Linked DNA regions of Homo sapiens: region 1 is linked to region 2. Evidence: fine-mapped expression QTL. A gene starts in region 2. The other region holds a variant in brackets. All regions are shown on one strand. Distances are between the middles of the regions. Region 1 overlaps LOC105377576 (a long non-coding RNA gene). Region 2 holds the start of DCTD (dCMP deaminase).

The links.
Region 1: its variant is fine-mapped to the expression of DCTD in whole blood (TOPMed, PIP above 0.99).

Annotation. Positions count from the first base shown.
Region 1 is chr4:182,869,040-182,878,775 of GRCh38, reverse strand. LOC105377576 (a long non-coding RNA gene) reads left to right here. Exons shown (of 3, transcript XR_007058403.1): 1 at 1-121; 2 at 1,016-1,265; 3 at 3,898-7,653. Among named protein-coding and RNA genes, the nearest start is that of DCTD, 43 kb to the left of the region's middle. The variant C/T (reference allele first, on the strand shown) is at 4,452.
Region 2 is chr4:182,913,166-182,922,901 of GRCh38, reverse strand. It overlaps DCTD (dCMP deaminase), which reads left to right and starts at 5,516. Exons shown (of 6, transcript NM_001921.3): 1 at 5,516-5,591; 2 at 7,327-7,441; 3 at 7,844-7,979. The coding sequence starts at 7,334. RefSeq lists an enhancer at 3,552-3,601 and a silencer at 5,175-5,884.

The DNA of each region.
Region 1 (9,736 bases), 44 kb after region 2:
GGCCTTCCTGTCTCAGAGCAGGGCTGATCACAGTCAGGCCCACTGCAGTGGAGAAAGACTGTGCAGAGCTAGACGCTGGACTCGGATCCTCTCTAGCGTGGGACAGGCACTGGGCACCCAGGTCAGCTGCAGTTCCTGAGAGAGGGCAGCCCCAGAGTCAGAATCAAGGTGTCAATAATAGGAGAAACGATGGTGGGGAGGAGACCAAGGCATTAATATAGGAACTCTGTATACTTTCCAGTCAATTTTTCCATAAAACTAAAACTGCTCTAAAAAAGGAGTCTGTTAATTTTTTAAAATCTCAAAAAGAATGTGGCTGGTGCCACAATGAACAATTTGAGTGAGAAGCTACTCAACGAGGTCAGAGGCATCAGAGAGGAAGAACACAGCAGCCTGTTTTCTTTGCTGCTCTTTACCGTTAGAAAGAACACTTTTACAACAGACTCTGTTTGAGGACAAACGCTCCACATTTTTGCCCGCTGGCAGCAGTCATAAATTATGAGATTTCTGAGGGGCACAAAACTGCAGCGGTCTAAACCAGGCAACAAAAATCAGCCAAGTCCTTATCAGGATCCCCTACAAATTCTATTGACTTTTTTGGATCTGTTTGTCCCTAGGTGTGAACTAGGGAAAAGTCAGGCGAGTCTGCCTTGCTAGTATATTTAAAAGAGGATCTTGGAGAATTTGAAAGAAAATGTGGAAGAAGAAATGACAGTGCTTGGTGAAAGTCAGCAGAAGGGCTTGATAATGGAACAGACTAAGGGTGGTGGATAGTTTTAAGGTTGAGAGAGAAATGGAATTAAAAAAAAGGGAGATATTCCTGGGGGCTTGAAGCAAGAAGCAGCAGCCGAGAGCAGCGCTGATCAGGATGTGAAGGGAGCTTGGTGCGGAGGGCAGTGCTTCCTATGAGAAAAAGTCCAGTGGTCAATCTTTTGGGAAGGAGCTGGTGGGATGAGGGGGCAGCTGGACTGACCTGAGTGCTGTTGTACTGTCTGACCATCTCCTTTGTAAACAGACGCTCCACACTCATGCTCAGAGCAGCATTATTCACAGCAGCCAGGAGGGGGACGTCGCCCAGGTGTTCCTCGGTGGATGAATGGATAAAGAAAATGTAAACACACAGTGGAATCTTACTCAGCCTTGAAAAGGAAGGAAAGTCCATCCAACACATGCTACTGCATGGACGAACTTTGGACAGTGAGCTAAGTGAAAGGAGACAGTCACAAAAGGACAAATACCAGATGATCCCACCTGCGCGAGATGATGTGAGTGTCAAATACATAGAGACAGAAAGTAGGATGGTGGGTGCGGGGCCTGGGAGAGGGGAAAATGGGAGTTGTTTAACAGATACAGACTTTCAGTTTTGTGAGATGAAAAGTTCCGGAGGTTGATTGCAAAGCAGTGTGCATATAGTTAACACTGCTTAACTGTACACTTAGAAATGGTTAAGATGGTAAATTTTATGTTATGTGTTTTTTTTGTTTTGTTTTGTTTTGTTTTTTTGAGATGGAATCTCTCTCTGTCGCCCAGGCTGGAGTGCAATGGCACGATCTCAGCTCACTGCAGCCTCCACCTCCTAGGTTCAAGCCATTCTCCTGCCTCAGCCTCCTGAGTAGCTGGGACTACAGCCTCACGCCACATGTCCGGCTAATTGTATTTTTAGTAGAGACAGGGTTTCATCATGTTGGCCAGGCTGGTCTGGAAATCCTGACCTCAAGTGATCCACCCGCCTCGGCCTCTCAAAGTGCTGGGATTGCAGACGTGAGCCACCGTGCCTGGCCTTATTATGTGTGTGGTTGTTTTTGTTTTGTTTTGTTTTTTTGTTTTCTTACCACACACACACACATACAAAACAGCTGCCCTGGCCCCTAGAGTAGTGAATTTTCACCAGCAGCCACCTAGGGGGTGAATTTTCTGATCATTTTGGGCTCAGTTCTGAAGTTCTGACTTTGAGCCCCACCTCACTCTGAATCTACAATCATTCTCTCTCCTGTCATCCTGTTGCAGTCTGCTCAGCTGCCCATAACTAAATACAAGGGACTGGGCGGCTTAAACAATAAGCCTTTACTTCTCACTGTTCTGGAGGCTGGGAAGTCTGAGATCAGGTGCTGGCATGGCCGGGTTCTGGTGAGGGCTCTCTTCCTGGCTTGTGGACGGCCGCCTTCTCACTGTGGGCTCACCTGGCAGGGAGTGGGGCCGGGAGCAACGGCTCTGGTCTCTTAGAAAGCTACTAATCCCATCGTAAGGGCGATACCCTCATGACTGCATCCAAACCTAATTACCTATAAAGGCCCTACCTCCAAAAACCCTCACATGGAGGGTTAAAGTTTTGACATATGAATTTGGGAGAGGGACACAGCTCAGTCCCTAGCACACCTTTCCTCCAACCCCAGAATTCAAAGGAGCAGCACACATTCCTTCAGCTCCGTCCATTGTAGCCTCCATTCCTCCTACGCTGTCTGAGCATCCTGGACTGTCTTGGGAACACCTGTCCTGTTTCCACCAGCTCCCTGGGATCTGCGGTGCAGACACCCCCTGAGAATGCCCACTCGGCTCCCCTGGGTCTTTAACCCAGGGACCGGCCAGATGTCTTGCTCACATGTCATAAATATGATTGCAATGTGGCTGTGCGTGGAACCCTGGCCCACTCTGGACCCTGAGCTCCAGAGACTCCGAGGCAGAGCTGCATTTCTATTATCACTTAGTAATTGGAGTTTTGCAGGCTTGGGATTACTGCTAATGGAAAGCAAATGGGCCAAGAATCAAGAAATAAGCACTTGAACAGCCAGCAGCACTCGGTAAAGCAAAGAGGCTATTATGCCACTTTATGTGGATAGAGATCATCATTTGCAGAAAGATTTGCAAAAATCTTTCCAGCCCATGGAAACAATGCCCACCAGGCCTTCTGGTGGCCCTGCCCTCCCTGCCTGGTGCAGCTAAGTGGCCGCCCAGGTAGGGAGCCTCACCTGCAGCACAAATTACCACCCGAAGCCAGCCTCTCCCGCTTGGCAGGAGCAAGGTTTGATCTTGCCTTCGCTGCCTGCTTTCTCGCTGGTACACAGAGCTCAGAGAAGCTCTTGGAACCAAAAGCCCTCCCACACACCCTGCCTCAGACTTCCTCGGCCTTCTCACCAGCCCCAGCCCAGAGAACAGGCGGTGATAGGGCTGCCATGAGCTGCTGTGACGGAAAGCTCGGAACAGTGGCTCTTGACTCAAGGAGAGAGAAGTGGCTGTAAAGAGTGACGTTTCCCGGGGTTTGCTGACCCCTGGTCTCCGGGTTAGTCTTGCCCTTTCTCCTCTGTGGGGTTGTGTCACCATCATACATTTACATGAGGGTCCTTTTCTCCATAGATCACGCCACCCCCTTCCCAGTGGCTAAAAGGCAATTTAATATGCAGAAGCTCTGCTAGAACAGCATTAGGTTATGACATGAGGAAATGGAAAAAAAACATCTAAGCCCAAACTCTGCCCTTCAGCCGTCCTCCTGAGACAGCGTGCTGCTGTCAGCCAAGGACAGAGTGGGCACGCTGGGGTTCTTGGGCTCAGCAAACAACAGGAAAACTGAGGCAACTTCAGCTGCTTACAAGAGAGAGACACAAGATTCACATGAGTTCCTAAGTTCAAGTTGGCTGAGGGGCTCAAGGGACTCACCGCGTCCCTCCCTCACTCCGGCAGATGCTGGGACGCTTCCAGACAGCCCCGGACATAGGGGGAGAGGGAGAGGCATGGAAACCCTCTTACCTTAGCCCCTCAGAAAGGTGCCTCCACTCATTGGTGACTCCCTCACTTAGCCATTAAATGTCACTACAGCCCGTTCGCACAGGGGAGAGAATCTACATCTAGCAGTAAAAAAAGGTGATGAAATGAAAGAAGTTGTGAAATGACATTTTTTTCCAGCAGGTTTGTCATATCTCCTGCATGGAGGAAAATTGCTTTCTGTAAATCTTGGTCCAACAGAACAAAACACCTATTTCTTTCCAGTTGGGAGGACAGCCATTCTCATCGGTATAATGAACGTATTGTAAGCTGTGACTTTTACAAAGTCTGAGGGAAACCAATCTGCAATCTTGACAGATACGATCTTTCCAGATGCACTGTTCGTTTACGGCGGCAAGAGAGCTCAATTAATTTCTGAGGGAGGACGGCAGGATGCGACCCCTTGTGCGTGGCCTAGGAGGAACTGTCCCTGTGTGAATTTATGTTCTGGTAATTTAAAAAGATTTATATTAAGCTTTTCTTTCATTTTGAGAGTAGATTAAAATTCTAATGGAAACCATTTGTATGCATTTGTTGAATTGAAGAGTATTTATGGCTGTGTAAAAAAAATGCTGCAAAATTCTGCCGATAATAAAGTCAGTGAAGCAAGAATAAGTGTAAAAACAGGAAGGAAATACGCGATAGAAACCATACTGTATTATACAAGTATAATGAGGGAGGCAAGCCGAGCAGAA[C/T]GGGGCAGGGATTAGGCCCCCGGATGGGATAGTTTTTCTTATTTAGTGTAAGGCTTTTGTAGCCCTTTTATGACTTAAAACAAAATTTAAATTTTGAAACAGGCCAGGTCAGTCTGCACAGACCCCATGGCCACATCACTGTGTCACATCATTCTTGAACTCCTGCCGGTGTCTAGGACAAACAGGCAGGAAAGAAAATCCAAGCGGCGTCTCAGAGAAAAGATGCTGATGGCAGGAAAAGAAGACCCATGAAACAGGAGGCGGGGGTCAGCGAGCAAGGTGAAAATCAGAGCCCCGGAGTGCAGTGCAGGTGGAAGAGAGGTAGCAAAACCAGGGAAGTCGCCGTGCTCGGGACAGTCCAGTGTGTCCCTGGCATCCCCAGTCATTGCCGTGGCCACCTGATCAGAACCTGTACAGAAGCTGCCCCATCTCCTCCACGGTGAGGGCCAAGTTGCATGTGCCACAGCCCTGTCGGTGACCTTTCTGCGGGCTGGGGAAGCAGAGACAACGGCCTGACAATCTGCAGGCACAGCCATCCAAGGGGACAGGGTCCATGCAACAGCCACCAGAGAAAGCTCCTCACTGCCACCTTTGCAGAGGGAGAAAAGCAGAAAGCATCGTGGAGGCCCTTTATCATGTTGGAAGGCCAGAGACATTTGGCATTCCGTCAAGGTCCATCTTAGAGTTGAGAGAGAGTTTCACCAGGAAACTCACATTCTCTCAGAACTAGCAGCCGTGATCGCATGTCGAAGTCAGGCAACGCCAAGCGTGATGGTTAACAGCGCTAAGACAGGAGAAAATGGAAATTCCCTGAGAGTCCACTGCTCTGCTCCTGCGGCGGTGCTTTTCCCCCTCGTTGTAAGCATGCTCTTTACCAGAGCTGCACGGATGTCATAAACTGCCTCACGATGCACTAGAGCAGAATCGTGCGTTAGCAAATTTCACAGATGCAAAGTGGGATTTCTGTCAATGGAAGCCTGCATGGAAAATACGGAACAGCTTAAGAAAGTACTGTCTTCTCTCAAAATTCCACAGGAGCCTGAAATGCAGGGGTTCCGGCCTAGGCGTTTTTTGAGGCAAATAACGTCGCCACACGGCCGAGATACAGGCCCCTTTTTGCCCCATGAGACTTACTGGCCTCAGAGTCCGGCCGCTTCTGTTTTGTTTCTTCATGTATCCTTGGCTTCTAGCGCAGTTCCTGGTACACAGCAGGCGCTCAATACATATTTGCTGAGCTAAGCAAATATGTCCTAGGCCCTGTGGAAGATACGACATGAGGAAGACCAGGTCCCTGCCAAAAAGGCACCGAGGGCCCAGGCTGGGGAGGGTAGTGCTGACATCGAGTAGGCCTTCAGCTCTGACCCCAGCTTCATTTTAAGTGACTAGGAACAAATTCTCAAAACTTCTTTTCTATCAACTCTTCTTCACCCCCAATATCACAGCACAACTGTCTGTCATTGATGGAGTTCCTGCAATAAGACAAGCGCTAGAAGTTTACCATATTTGTATCCTTACTGGATTCCCAAATTAATCCTAGTAAGCAAGTGACATGATTGTTTTTAGTAGAGACAGGGTTTCACTTTGTTGGCCAGGCTAGTCTTGAACTCCTGACCTCAAGTGATCCACCCACCTCAGCCTCCCAAAGTGCTGGGATTAGGAAAATGAATACTTTTGCAAGCACAATGACAGGAGTGTCAAAGGAGGTAGGCTCCACACTCTGATGTCTCTTTATCAGTGAGGCCTTTTCTGACTCCCTCACATGAAGAGCAAACTCACTTCCCTTGTGCCAAAGCACTCAACATATATGACATCCCACACGGGGTAGGCTGAATCGTGGCCCTTAAAGTATGTCCATGTTCCAATCCTTAGAACATGTGAATGTATTACCTTATGTGGCAAAATGGACTTTGCAGACATGATTAAGTTAAGGATCTTGAGATTTCAGGAAAATTATCTTGGATCATTCAGGTAGGCCTGACATAATCACAAGAGCCCTTACAAGAGAGAGGCAGGAGGCCAGAGGCAGAGAGCTACACTGCGGAGCTGCTTTGCAGATGGAGGAAGGGGCCACCGAGACCTGAGAAAGTCAAGGAGACAGATTCTCCCCTGGAGCCTCCAGAGGGAACCAGCCCTGCTCACACCGTCATTTCAGCCCTGCAAGACTTGTTTGGGCTTCTGACGTCAAGAACTGGGACAGAATGAATTTGTGATGTTTTAGGCCACTAGATCTGTGGTAATGTGTTATAGCAGAAATAGGAAACTAACACAACTCATCTCTACTTGTGTATATGTTTGTTATCCGTCTTCCTCTGCTGGGACATGAAATCCGCAACAAGTGGAGGCAAAGCCAGGGACTTTGTCTATTATGTTGACTGGCATCCTTAGTGCTCAGAACAGAGCTCAGAATAATAAATATTTGTTGAATGAGCAAAGACGGAGGGGGCAGTCGCAGGAAGGGGGCCTACCGCGTGGCTAAGGGCCCTGAGGTATGAAAGATCTGAGATGCTGGTGGACGTGGCTGCTTCCCGAGCTGAACTGGGGAAGTGGTGGGGAGGTGGGAGATGTCGGGGAGCTGATGCTGGGGCAGTTTATACTTTATTCTGCAAATGAAGAATTATTGATGGGTTTCATGTAGAGTCATGATCATATTTCTTGATTGCGTTTTTTTTTTGTTTTGTTTTGTTTTGTTTTTTTGAGACAGAGTCTCACTCTGTCGCCGAGGCTGGAGTGCAGTGGTGCGATCTTGGCTCACTGCAACCTCCGCCTCCTGGATTCAAGCTTCCCGAGTAGCTGGGATTACAGGTGCATGCCACCATGCCCGGCTAATTTTTGTATTTTTAGTAGAGACGGAGTTTCACCATGTTAGTCAGGCTGGTCTCAAACTCCTGACCTCGTGATCCACCCACCTCAACCTCCCAAAGTGCTGGGATTACAAGCGTGAGCCACTGCGCCTGGCCTCCTGATTGCTTTTTAAGTAATTTTTTAAAAATAATTTTTCTCTTTATTATTAAATGTTAGAAATATATGGAAACGTGGGCAAAAAGTAAAAATCACTCAAATCTCATTCCTAGAGTTAGTCACTATTAATATTTTGGTGTATGTGTATTTCTTCCTTCAACATTCAGATTATATACTTTTTTGAAACTGGCTTTTTTCTCTTAATGTGAATTTCTCCATGTCATTAAATATTCTCCTAAAAACATGGTCTTTAGTAACTATATCGTATTCTATCATCCAACCACAACTAAGTTCATTTAATCAATTCCCTCTAACTGGACAGTTCTTTTACTCCCCCAGTATTTTGTGATTTTAAGTAATAATAATAGCACCTGGCATATACTAGGCATTCCATATTTGTTGAATGAATGCATGGTTCAGAGAACATTTCAGACATAAACCTTTATATGTATGTCTAATTGCTTCTTCAGGAAAAAAATTCTTGCGAGTGAAAATGTTGGGTCAAAGGCTGTATTTTTTTTAATGGCTCTTGATACATATGGCCAAATTGCCTTTCCAAAAGGTTATAAAAATTATAACTCCACCAACAGTATATGGGTGCATAATTTCGCTGCTCCAAGGGTGGTATTGTAATTTTTCAAACCAGTATTTGCATTTTAGAAAAGTTTCCATGGGGACATGAAGGTAGTAGTTAGCCGGTCTTGTGAAGTCCAGGCAAACAATAGAAAGAACCTGAATTGTAGCATTGGAGGTTGTGTTAGAAAGAAGACAGATTCAAGCTGTACAGGATGTGACATCCTCAGGACTTGAATGTAGAAGGTTGAGAGAGATGTTGGAATGACCAACTCCGGCTTAATTAACCAGACCTTTATTGTAAGCTCATGGGGCAACCCACAGAGTCAAAGCTAAGGTGTCAGGCTCCAGAAACACTGAGGCAGCATCATTTGGGATCCAAGAAGCAGAAAGGAATGGATGGTATCTTCTCAGGACCCCACCCCCAGAATGAGACTGTTTTTGTGTCACATTGCTTAAGGTTCAAATTCCAGAGAGAGGGGCGAGTCTGGCCTACTGTGGGTCAAGTGTCCATCCTGTGGCCAGAGGCAGGGGGTACCTTGATGGATAGTCCTTCCAAGAAGAGGGAGGGGTCCGTACTGTTTCCAGCAGAAGACCATCTAAATAAATACCAGGTATGCAAAAATCTATGGCAGTCTTCTCCAAATGTCAGTGCTTCCCATATTTAACAGTTCCTGCTCATATTCAGCCTTTCCTTGAACACAAGGATAACTCCTTTCTAAGAAAAAGAGGAAATAGGAGGGAGACAGAAATATCTTCTGACCTTGCTGGGATCCTGGCTCAAATCCCCTGTAACCCCGTGCCCTCTGGCTTCCTGGACCTTGGAGTGGCAGTCAGCTAGCTGACCACCAACATCTGTGCTTCCTCTCTCATGCCATGAGGTTGCTTCTGGGAGCACCTGCCCCTCCAGAGGCAGTGTTTCCCAGCCCCACTTGCACTGGCTTGGGGCCACGTTCCTACCAATGGAAAAAGCTGGGCCAGGGTTTTCTAGAAGCAGATGTCCCTGGACCCGGAATTACCACAGAGGGAAAGCTGCGTGCCAACCAGGAACACCCTCATTGGACTGAGATGTGAGTGAGAAACAAACTTTGAGTATGTGGCTCCATTGAAATGTTGGGGTTTATTTGTCACTGTGGCTAATTTATAACCTTCTAAACACCTCTAGATACTTGTTTAATAAAGGCCTGAGAAGAAATAAATGAGCCATGGGTAAAAAGGCCCCTACAGGATTCCAGAGTAACATAATTCCTTAAAATATAGGAAATAGCCCAGCAATTCCAGTCTTAGGTCTATATCCAAGAGAAATGAAAACATGTGGCCACACAAAAGCTTGCGCATGAACGTTCACGGCAGCATTGTATGTAACAGCCAGCAGGTGGATACCCAGATGCCCATCAACTGATAAGTAAAACTTATATCCATACAATATTGTTTGGCAATACAAAGAATGAAGTACTGATACAGATGATACTATGTATATTTAACATCATGCTAAGTGAAAGAATCCAGTTACAAAAGACCATGCGTTGTATGATTTCATTTATATGAAGTGTCCCAAATAGGCAAATCCATAGACTCAGAAATAAGTTAGTGGCTGCCTGGAGGTGGGAGTGTGAGGGGGTAAATTGGGAGGAGATGGGCAGTAAATGCTAATGCATATGAAATTTCTTTTTGGGGTGACAAAACTGTTCCAAAATTCATGGTGGTGATGGTTGCACCATTCTGTGAATATATTAAAAGCATTGAATTATATG
Region 2 (9,736 bases):
GGATCCTGAAAGAAGACCATCTTCTTGGGTTTGCAGACGAAACAGCCCGGGGTGTATTTATGTTTGACCTCCTACCACATTCTGACTTTCTACTCTAATGAATCCTGGTTTATTCTTCACTGAAATGGCTCGGCTCCAGGAGCCCTTGGTGTGATTCTAACACAGTGTAGATATCGATTTTTCTTGCAGGTTAGTGGTTACTGTAACCACCACACTATTAGATCTCTCTCATTCTCTTAGGGATGATTTCATGAGGGCCGTTCCACTCCCTTTGGTTGATATTTAACTCAATCCAGGGCTAATTTGAAGATAGCATTACTAGGATCATGCTTCATGGCTGAGAGCTCCCTACCTTGTATCACTTCAAGTTGTCTATCAAACACTGCAGCAGACAGAGGTTCATCAGAAATGGGGCCTTTGGAGAACTCTGGCCTCGGTACTGCCTTGTTGCTCTCTGTCAGCTCTTGAATCAAAGCTTTGAATTGCTTACTGTGAACAGTGTCAACAGTCATTCACATAGGATAGGGTTCCTCCCTTATTTTGTTTGCTCCTGACTGTGGAAGATGACTTTTTCCCTCATGGCATTAACAACAGATTGTTGTTGTGGTAGGATCACAGGTGTTATCTTCAATATACACATACATGGTGTGCCACAATACTAAAATGTTAATTTGATTCGCGCCTTCTCCTTTCAGAGGTTCACACCCAGTGAGCTTTCCAGTTAGCTGAGGGAAGGCGCAACACGTCAGGCAGGTTATGATGGCCATTAGCTCCCAACTACAATTTCACAGGGACTTTCATTTACAATGGTTCTTAGGCATTCACCTTGCTACACCAGTTAAAATACACACTGCAAAATGAGTGGTGACTCTGATGTCAATAAAGAATTCTATATCCAGAACCGTAATACCTTGTTGATTACCCTTTAGGAGGTTCCTTGGTGACCCCAGCGTAGAGGGTGTAATTTAATGAAATCATTAACATTTCTATAAAGCCAACAATCTGATACATTCTCTTCAGGTTAGGCACTTTCACAGAATAGCGTAAGTGACTGTTCCACATGAAGCATTATCTTTTCTTGTACAACACTGAAAGCTTACATGCTGCTTGACAAATGTGAATTTTAAAAAGTAAGAATGATTGGCACTTGGTAACTTACACAGAAATAGAAAGTGGTACGAGAAAATTGCCCATTTCTTTTAGATTTAATATGTTTTTTTTTCTTTTAAGAAGCAATAAGACATGTAATTTCCATCCACTTCAACCAGTTGTGTATGAAAGAGGCTACAAGTTCAGCTCTGTAGAAGCAAAGAAGTCATGGGGAGAGGCATCACACCAGGAAAGAGGAGACAGCCTTCCCCTCCGCCTTCAGCTCTGCTGTACGAGAGATGGTCATTTTCAGGCCAAGCCCCAAATCCTAGGACTGAGATCCATGCCTCCTTAAAATGATACTGTTCACTCTTGTTTCCCTGACCCACCAGCCCCAATGTCTCACTTATCAAATGTCTCTCCAGGTCTATGAATTGCAAGGAGAAAAAGGAGGCGGATAGGGAAGTAGAACCAGAGTTCACAGACAAAGACTTCTCTCTATGAGTTAGATGCTCCAAACAATTTGGCATAGAACAATGATTTTCTATTAACTCATTTATTTAGTCAACAAATATTTATTAATAAAAAACGGCAAAACACCCAGCTTTGTGCATATGCCATGTTAACATTTCCTTATTGATCTTCATTGAAAAAAAAGATTTTTTTTTTTTTGAGATGGGGTCTCCCTCTGTCACTCAAGCTGGAGTGCAGTGGTGCAGTCACAGCTCACTACAGCCTCAACCTTCTAGGCTCGAGCAATCTTCCCTCCTCAGCCTCCTGAGCAGCTGGGACTACAGGCATGCACCACCATGCTTGGCTCATTTAAAACTTTTTTTTTTTTTTTTTTTTGCAGAGACTGGGTCTTGCATAGCCCAGGCTGGTCTCAAATTCCTGGGCTCAAGCGATCCTCCCACCTTGGCCTGCCACTTTGCTGGGATTACAGGAGTGAGTTCATTACAACAAACCCGGCCCTTCATTGTAATTTTGAAGATGTATAATGACAAAGTAATTGGTGGCTTCAACTCATAACAAAAACGCTGTTTAGGGATCCTGATTTTTTTTCTGATAGGAGTGCTCTGTCATGTCAATTTGCAGTCTGTATGCCCTTCATGGAACACAAACAACTGACCTCATGCTCTAACATACATACGAAAATGTATATACAGGTTGAATATCCCTTCTCCAAAATGCTTAGGACCAGAAGTGTTTCAGGTTTTGGATTTTTTCAGATTTGGGAATATGTGCATATATGTAATGAGGTGTCCTGGGGATGGGACCCAAATCTAAACACAATATATATTTATGTTTAATATACACCTTACATACATAGCCTGGAAGTAGTTTGACAGGATATTTTTCATAATTTTGTGCACCTATCACATGAGGTCAGGTGTGAATTTCCCACTTGTGGGAGTGTCAGCACTCAAAAAGTTTCAGATCTTAGAGCATTTTGGATTTTGAATTTTCAGGTTAGGGATGCTCAACCTGTACTGTATTGATAAGACCACATATTTATTTTTTTCTAGAATTTTCATTGTGACTTTTTTGTGGTTTAGCAGACTTACAGTCATCCCTTACTTAAGATTTAAAAAGAGTTTTCTCTAGTTTGCACTTTAGCATGGAAACATAAACAATTATTCCTTTGAAAACCAGTCAAAGTGGCACTTTGCCTCTAAGTGCAGTTGTTATGCAAAGGAGTTTTTGGTCCTGACTGACAACCACCAAATTAAGAACAACAGGCAGTTTATAACAACATTTACTATGTTCACTGGGCCAGCAATAAGGTTCATTTTTTTCTGTGTTTATTTGCGGAGAGGGGAATGTGAGGGCAAGAACTGGCTTATAGTATCCATCATGGTATTTACAGCACTTAGCACATAGCAGGGAATTAATAAAAAATGAATATTGTTGATTTTACAGAGACTCCAAGAATGGAAGTAGCTTCTCAAGGTTACTCGGGTTGTAAGAAGTGGGAGTAGGGTTCAAAGTCTGGTCTGACTCCAAGGCCGGTGCTCTTTCTCTCATGACAAACTTGATGGACAGATTGGCCACCTTCCTGACTCCTTGCCTCTGTTTCCCCAGTCACAGGTCTCATCCTTACCTTGGCAGGCAGAGGAGGTGGAAGGAGGGGCAGGTAGTATCTCGGTACGGCAGACATTTGCAAATGCCATCAACCCCTCTTCTGAGGCAGCCCTGGAAGAGTCTTACCTTGACTTCTGTTTTTAATCGGGATCCCCTACCTAAGGCACACTGAAATATTAATATATTCCAGGTTATGCTCTAGACTAGACATAGATAGCACGAAACCCCATAAACAAAAGGGCCAAGACAGTAGTCCTTAGGAATGTGCTGATTGGGTTCAACCTGTGTGAGGCCCTCAAGGAAGGCCAATCTAGATAGGGCTGAACACATACCTAACCTCTGTATCTGTAGTAGGTGGAGAAAGATCCTCAATTATAAGCCCAAATACAAGGTATTAGCAAGAGAGATTTAACACCTACAGTCACACTTGGAGTTACAAGGTGTTAATGAGAAAGACATACCAAGGAATATATTTCTCCCCCCTTTGGCCGCGTGGCTTCACTATTGGTGTACAATATTTGAAACCTCAAGTTGTGAAACTCTGAACCAGGAGGGTTTCCTGTATTATGAATGATGTCATCTTTAAGATGAGGGACTTTCAGTGAAATGCGGGAACATTCAGGGTAATGTGTTTTCAGCAAGCAGGAGCTTGAATTTATGGCAGAGGGGAGTGTGTGAGTTGACCAAAATGGAGAGTGATGAGAAGTAACTAAATTATGTATGACAGTCTTTACCGAGCAGAGGAAGGAAGAAAGCTTAATGATGTTGTGGTTGAAGGAGCAGCAGCAATTGGTGATGTATGGGTTGTAGGTTGGTAAGAAGAGAAATGGATCTATGAAGACCCAAAGACTGTAGATGAGTGTGACAAAGACCAAGCGGTGGATTTGGGAGGAGGAGGGAAACCAGGGGCTCGGGATATATGACACATTTTAGCGGCAACAAGACAGCCATGTAAAGTCAACTTGAAATTAAAAATCATCATCTTAATCTATGTGGCTCTTTCAAGCCTGAGTCTTATCAAGGCAAAAAAAAAAAAAAAAAAATCTATAGTTAACGATGAAGTATTTCTCCCTTTTGCTTTCCCGGCATCCACCAAGAGCAGTACATAATTTAATTATTGAATCTACAAGCTGGACCATGAGATGAAGAATGATGTGTCTGCTGTAGTGAGAAATTAGATAGAACCAACTGTTTACTCTCATCATTCTTCCTCCGTTAGGCTAAATTAATATAGTTAACAAGCTTTTGTTTGGAATAGCAGTTCAAATCTGGGATGTGCAGATCAGAACTGGCGATTATTACAGTAGCTGTTATTTATGGAGTGCTGACAGTCCCCTCAAGTCCCATGAATGAAACAGAAAGGGGTTCTTCTGTCATTCTCTGTGCTAGAACCACTGTAAGGGGCTAGACGTCTGCACAGGGTAACGAAGTTCATGAAAACCAGATTAAGTTGCTTGGGGCATACGACTCCAGAAATGTCACTGATGGTCTTTCCTATTGCCCTGTTTTTCTCATCTTTGAAACAACTGCAACAAAATGTGCACTATATAAGTGGGCGAGCATTACCAGGAGGTAACATGCAGGTGGGGTGCCTGTGCGGTGATACGGGTCGAGCAGGGCGCGGCAGGCTTTAGCAAACACCTCAGGCCCTTCCGCACAATTTGAGCAGAAACTGAAAGCCTGTCAGGCGCAGCCAAATGCAAATCTAGCTTCGAGGCACTGAGCCTCGAGGCACAGCGCCCCCGCCGGACCCAGTTCCCTGCCCCATCCAGTGTGTGAAACTGTGACCCAGCCACCGGCCAAGGGTCCCCACGGGGACGCTGCGACACAGCGGGCTCACTCCAGAGACCCAAACCAGGTCTCCCCACCTCCCGCCCCGCCAGTTTCACGGCACTAGATTCTTGGGGTCGTCTTTTAATCACAATCTCCATAGCCGTGTCTCTAAGCAGTTGATGGAACACGGATGGTGGGGAAAACCTCACCACCGCCACCACCACCAAACCAAGCAGCCCCCGACGGTCGTGCAGTCAGGCCCGGGAGCGCCCAACTCGCGGCCACCCAGCGCCACGCGTGACCCGGGCAGCGGGGCGACCTCGGGGCGGTCTGGCACCCGGGAAGTAGTTTGTGCTCGGGCTCTGAACACCGCCGGCCGGACCGCGGGCTGCGTCACGGGGACCGGGAGGCGTACGGCGACGCGGAGCAGCGCCTTTGCGGCGTGCGACCCGCCCCCGCCGTCCCTCCCTCCCTCCCCTCAGGGCTTCGGGCCCCCGGGGCCAGCCGCCGTCCTGCGAACGCGCGGCGCCCGGGCCGCTGCCCCCTTCCGGCCCCGCGGCGGCCCCGCCTCCTCCCCCGACTTCCTTCCCTGAGCACGGCGGCGGCGGGGACGAGCACCGGCCTGCGCGCGGAGCCGGCACCGGATGGTGGGCGGGGGCCAGCCGTGCGGGTACGCGGCCCGCGCGCCCCTAGCCACCGCCGCGTGGCACCGTCCCGAGCGCGTGGCGCGGGGCGCTGGCTGCCGGGCGGGGGCCTGGGGCCGCGGACGCTGGGGGCGCCTCGGCCGCGCTCAGCCTTTAGATCGGAGAATGCGGGCGGGGTGGGGGCGCTCGGGGTCCCCGCAGTCACTCCAGGGTCGATTTCTCGGCGGGCGCCGCGGCCTGTGCGAGGCCGGGCCCCTTGGAGTGCCCCGGGAGGTGGTGCTGGGCGTCTGAACACCACATCCCTTCCTGCGCCCGTGTGTGGGTTGGGAATGCCGGGTGTAGGCCCTGGATCAGAGCTGACGGGGTTGCGAGCGGCGTGGGGTGTGCCTGGGACGGTGACCGGATGTGTCTTCCTGAATCGTTGTATTCGAGCTCCAGTTCTCTCTGTTTCTACAGCTGGGCCTCAGTCCTCACAGGGCTCTAGTGGGCGTTCAGCCACACCAGGAGAAGGCGCCCAGGGGATTAACAGGACCCTTCCCTCTCCTGCTCTTCCCTCGCCCCCCATGGCTCCCCCTCCCTCCTATTTAGTAGGTACTTCTCCAGCACCCCACAGCGATGATGGATGCTGGCCCTAAAGCCAGGTGGGAAACCAGGCTGATTCAGCACCTGTCTTTTCCTGTTAGGGGGGTTGCCAGGCCTCTCAGATGTGGGGCAGCGTAATCAGTGGGTGACCGTGGTTCCCAGCACCCACTCTCCACTGCATCCTTGTCTTAGGCACTGCCGCCCTGCACTGTAGCAGATGCCTAAATAAAGTGTGGAGCCTGAAGCAGAAGTTTTGGGAGATGCTTGCCTTCCTTTAGACCACATTCCTCGCCTTTCTCAAGATTTCTCCGTGGTACCCACCCCGTTTTTGTGTTGTCTTCCTTCCTTGCCCTTGTTTCATTCCTTTTGAAAGCGACCACTCCCCTGAAGTCCTAGGACCCCCTTCGTGGGCTCTCCCTGCCGTAGACAGTCTCTGCTTGCCCCTGGTAAACTACGTTCCAAAAACCTTGCTTTAGGAGTAGCACTTGACGTTTTTCATAGTTTCTTCTCATGTAATTCATTACTCGGAGTTGATAACTTCTGTCCCATCTGGATTATTGAGGAGAAAGGGAAGGGAAAAATTATCTGGTTAATATCAGAGTTGGGAAGGCTTCAGATGTTTTCTTTGAATCCGTCTGGCATGGATGATAATCCTGTGTGGTTTAGGTTAAGTTACCTAAGTTCTCTGAGTCTGTGTAAGATGGGATGGCACTGTCTACCTTAGCTAGGAGTAAGGCTTGAGTGACATGATGTGTATAAACTTTAACAATGTCTGGAATCTATAGATGATCAATAAATATTTCTTTTTTCCACCCTCCTCCTGTGCTGACTCCGCTTTGTAAGGGAGACAGGTAAAGGACACAACAATTTGTAGGCTGGCATAAAAAATCCTATGAGAAAGCAGTAAATAGATGAAATATTTGGGAACGTGAAGCTATAGGTTTCAAATTCAAACTTCTGAAATAGGAAATTTCTTAAGTTTTTACTTAAGACCAGAGACTGTTTAGGGCCCATGTGCTGTGATTTCTGATTGATAAATGTAGCTGAAGTTGCCCATGTTTAGAGATTTAAAGGTTCAGTGTGGTTGGGTTGAACTGGAAAACAGACTTACTAAAATGCTTCTCTCAACTTCTGTTTTGTCATGTTTTTCTTCTAGACCCAACATGAGTGAAGTTTCCTGCAAGAAACGGGACGACTATTTGGAATGGCCAGAGTATTTTATGGCTGTGGCCTTCTTATCAGCACAGAGAAGCAAAGATCCAAATTCCCAGGTAAATGAATTTCACGGGAGAATGCTTAGATACTCACAGGCAAAGAGATTACTGCACATGAGCAGAAAGGGGAGACTCAGTGGACGCCTGTCAACTTAAAAGTGCAGGGTCGGTCTGCCTTTTGTGCTGCGTTTCTACAAGCTTAGTTCTTCCTGTGAGACAGAAAATTGTCACATGCCATTGTTAACTGCCTCTTGTGCCCCTTCTGGGACTGGGGGTGCACTTTCCTTGGCTTGTGGGTGCTGCCACAAAAAACCAGGCAAGGAGACCGACAGCTCTCAGCACCTGCAGCAGCTATGCGTCTGTTTTGAGTTCTGCAGTCCCCCTGGTTTTATTCCCTGCTTCCACAGCGGCAGACCAGCCAGTTGCAGGCACCAAGCCTTTGGGCATGTTTCCTTCTAGGTCGGCGCCTGCATCGTGAATTCAGAAAACAAGATTGTCGGGATTGGGTACAATGGGATGCCAAATGGGTGCAGTGATGACGTGTTGCCTTGGAGAAGGACAGCAGAGAATAAGCTGGACACCAAATACCCGTACGGTAGGGCAAGTTTTATGTCCCATTCTGCTTAGTGACATAGCCTGGTGAGTGCCTAATTAAGAAAGTTGGTCAGAAGGCATCATCTCCCTTTTGTCATCAACAACTGGAAAGAAAAGTATCCTACTGAACTACCCCAATTTCCTGGCCTTGTCTCTTAAGTTCCAAAGAGAGCCACGGAGAGAAGCATGGTAGTGGCCACACAGGCTGGCCCTGAGATCCAGGGCTCTGCTGCCTGTGCTGAGCCTGGCAGGCTTCACTGGCAACCTGCTGGCCTGCACCACACCAGTGCACTGATAGTCGGCGTCTCTGCAGAGGGTCACAGCCCCTTGCAGAGATAGCTGAGGGATGTGCATGGTGTCTCTGTGGGTTCCTTTTTTTACTACTTGGAAGCAGGGTCGGCTAACCAGGGGCTGGCTCGGGCTTTGGTCTGATGAGAAGCAGGCTTCATTCAGCCCATGTGCCTGATGAGAACATCTGGCTCAAGCTCATTGCTGGCAAGCAGGAATCAAACTGTGAACTAGACATCAGGAGATGGAGGATCCAGTTGCTTCCTCCAGTTACAGGGGATGCTGCAATTTCACAGTAGGCTGTGGTCAGACCAAAAGCCAGAAGTGAGGCTGGGCACGATGGCTCACGCCTGTAATCCCAACACTTTGGGAGGTGGAGACGGGCAGATCACCTGAGGTCAGGAGTTCGAGACCAGCCTAGCCAACATGGTGAAACCCCATCTCTACTAAAAATACAAAAATTAGCTGTGCGTGGTGGCAGGTGCCTGTAATCTCAGCTACTCGGGAGGCTGAGGAAGGAGAATCGCTTGAACTCAGGAGGTGGAGGTTGTAGTGAGCCAAGACTGCGCCACTGCACTCCAGCCTGGGTGACAGAGCAAGACTCTGTCTCAAAAAACAAAACAAAAACAAACAAACAAAAAACAAAACAAAAACAAAGAAAAGAAAAAGCTAGAAGTGTAGAACTGTAAACCTTTGGCTTGACTGTCTCTGGATTTTCCCCTTGAAATTAGGGAAGGCTGCTTCTTAGAGTTTGTTGCCTGTCTAAGCCCCAGGGAAAATTCCTTCAGAGATTGCCTGGGAGGGTCCAGCCATAGCTTTACTTTTCCTTGCATTCCTTGGAGAATATGCAAGCAATGCTGGAAAAGAGGCAAATCATGCTGGGTATGCAGGTTGCTGATTTTTGTAAGGTTAGGCCCTGTATTTTATGTCTGAGAATGAACAGACTGGCGCTGTTGGAAGTGAAGGGAGAGTAAGGCCATCCAAATGGGAAAGATTGTGTCTTCAGGCCAAGGCGTGATGTACGACCTTTCTTCTTTGTTGACTCTCCTGGTAGGTTTTCTTCTGGGTTTTTCTCATGAAGAATCCAAGTCAACATTTAGTCTAATTTATATATTTTTACTAATGTTCCTGGACCTCAATCATGTTAAATAAGCCCCATAAATTTCTTTCTAAATTGCCTAGGGGCAACTTCTCCATGTTTGAAAGAAAAAGTTAAGAGGTACCTGGAGAGAGAGGAGGAACTGAGGACTGCAAAGCAGTCTGGGTTTCCAGGATGTGAAAAGTAGTTTAGGGATGAAGGGGACCGAATCCTCAGATCCTTGATTTAACCTCACCCTCCCTCGTCGGAGTGGGAAGAGAGGATGGAGTTGGGGGAGGGTAAGACTGTCTTCTCAGCACAGCTTCAGAGCCGGTGGTAGTGGATGACTAATTAGAAAAATGCGCGGACTCAGAAACTGTCACCCTGATTTT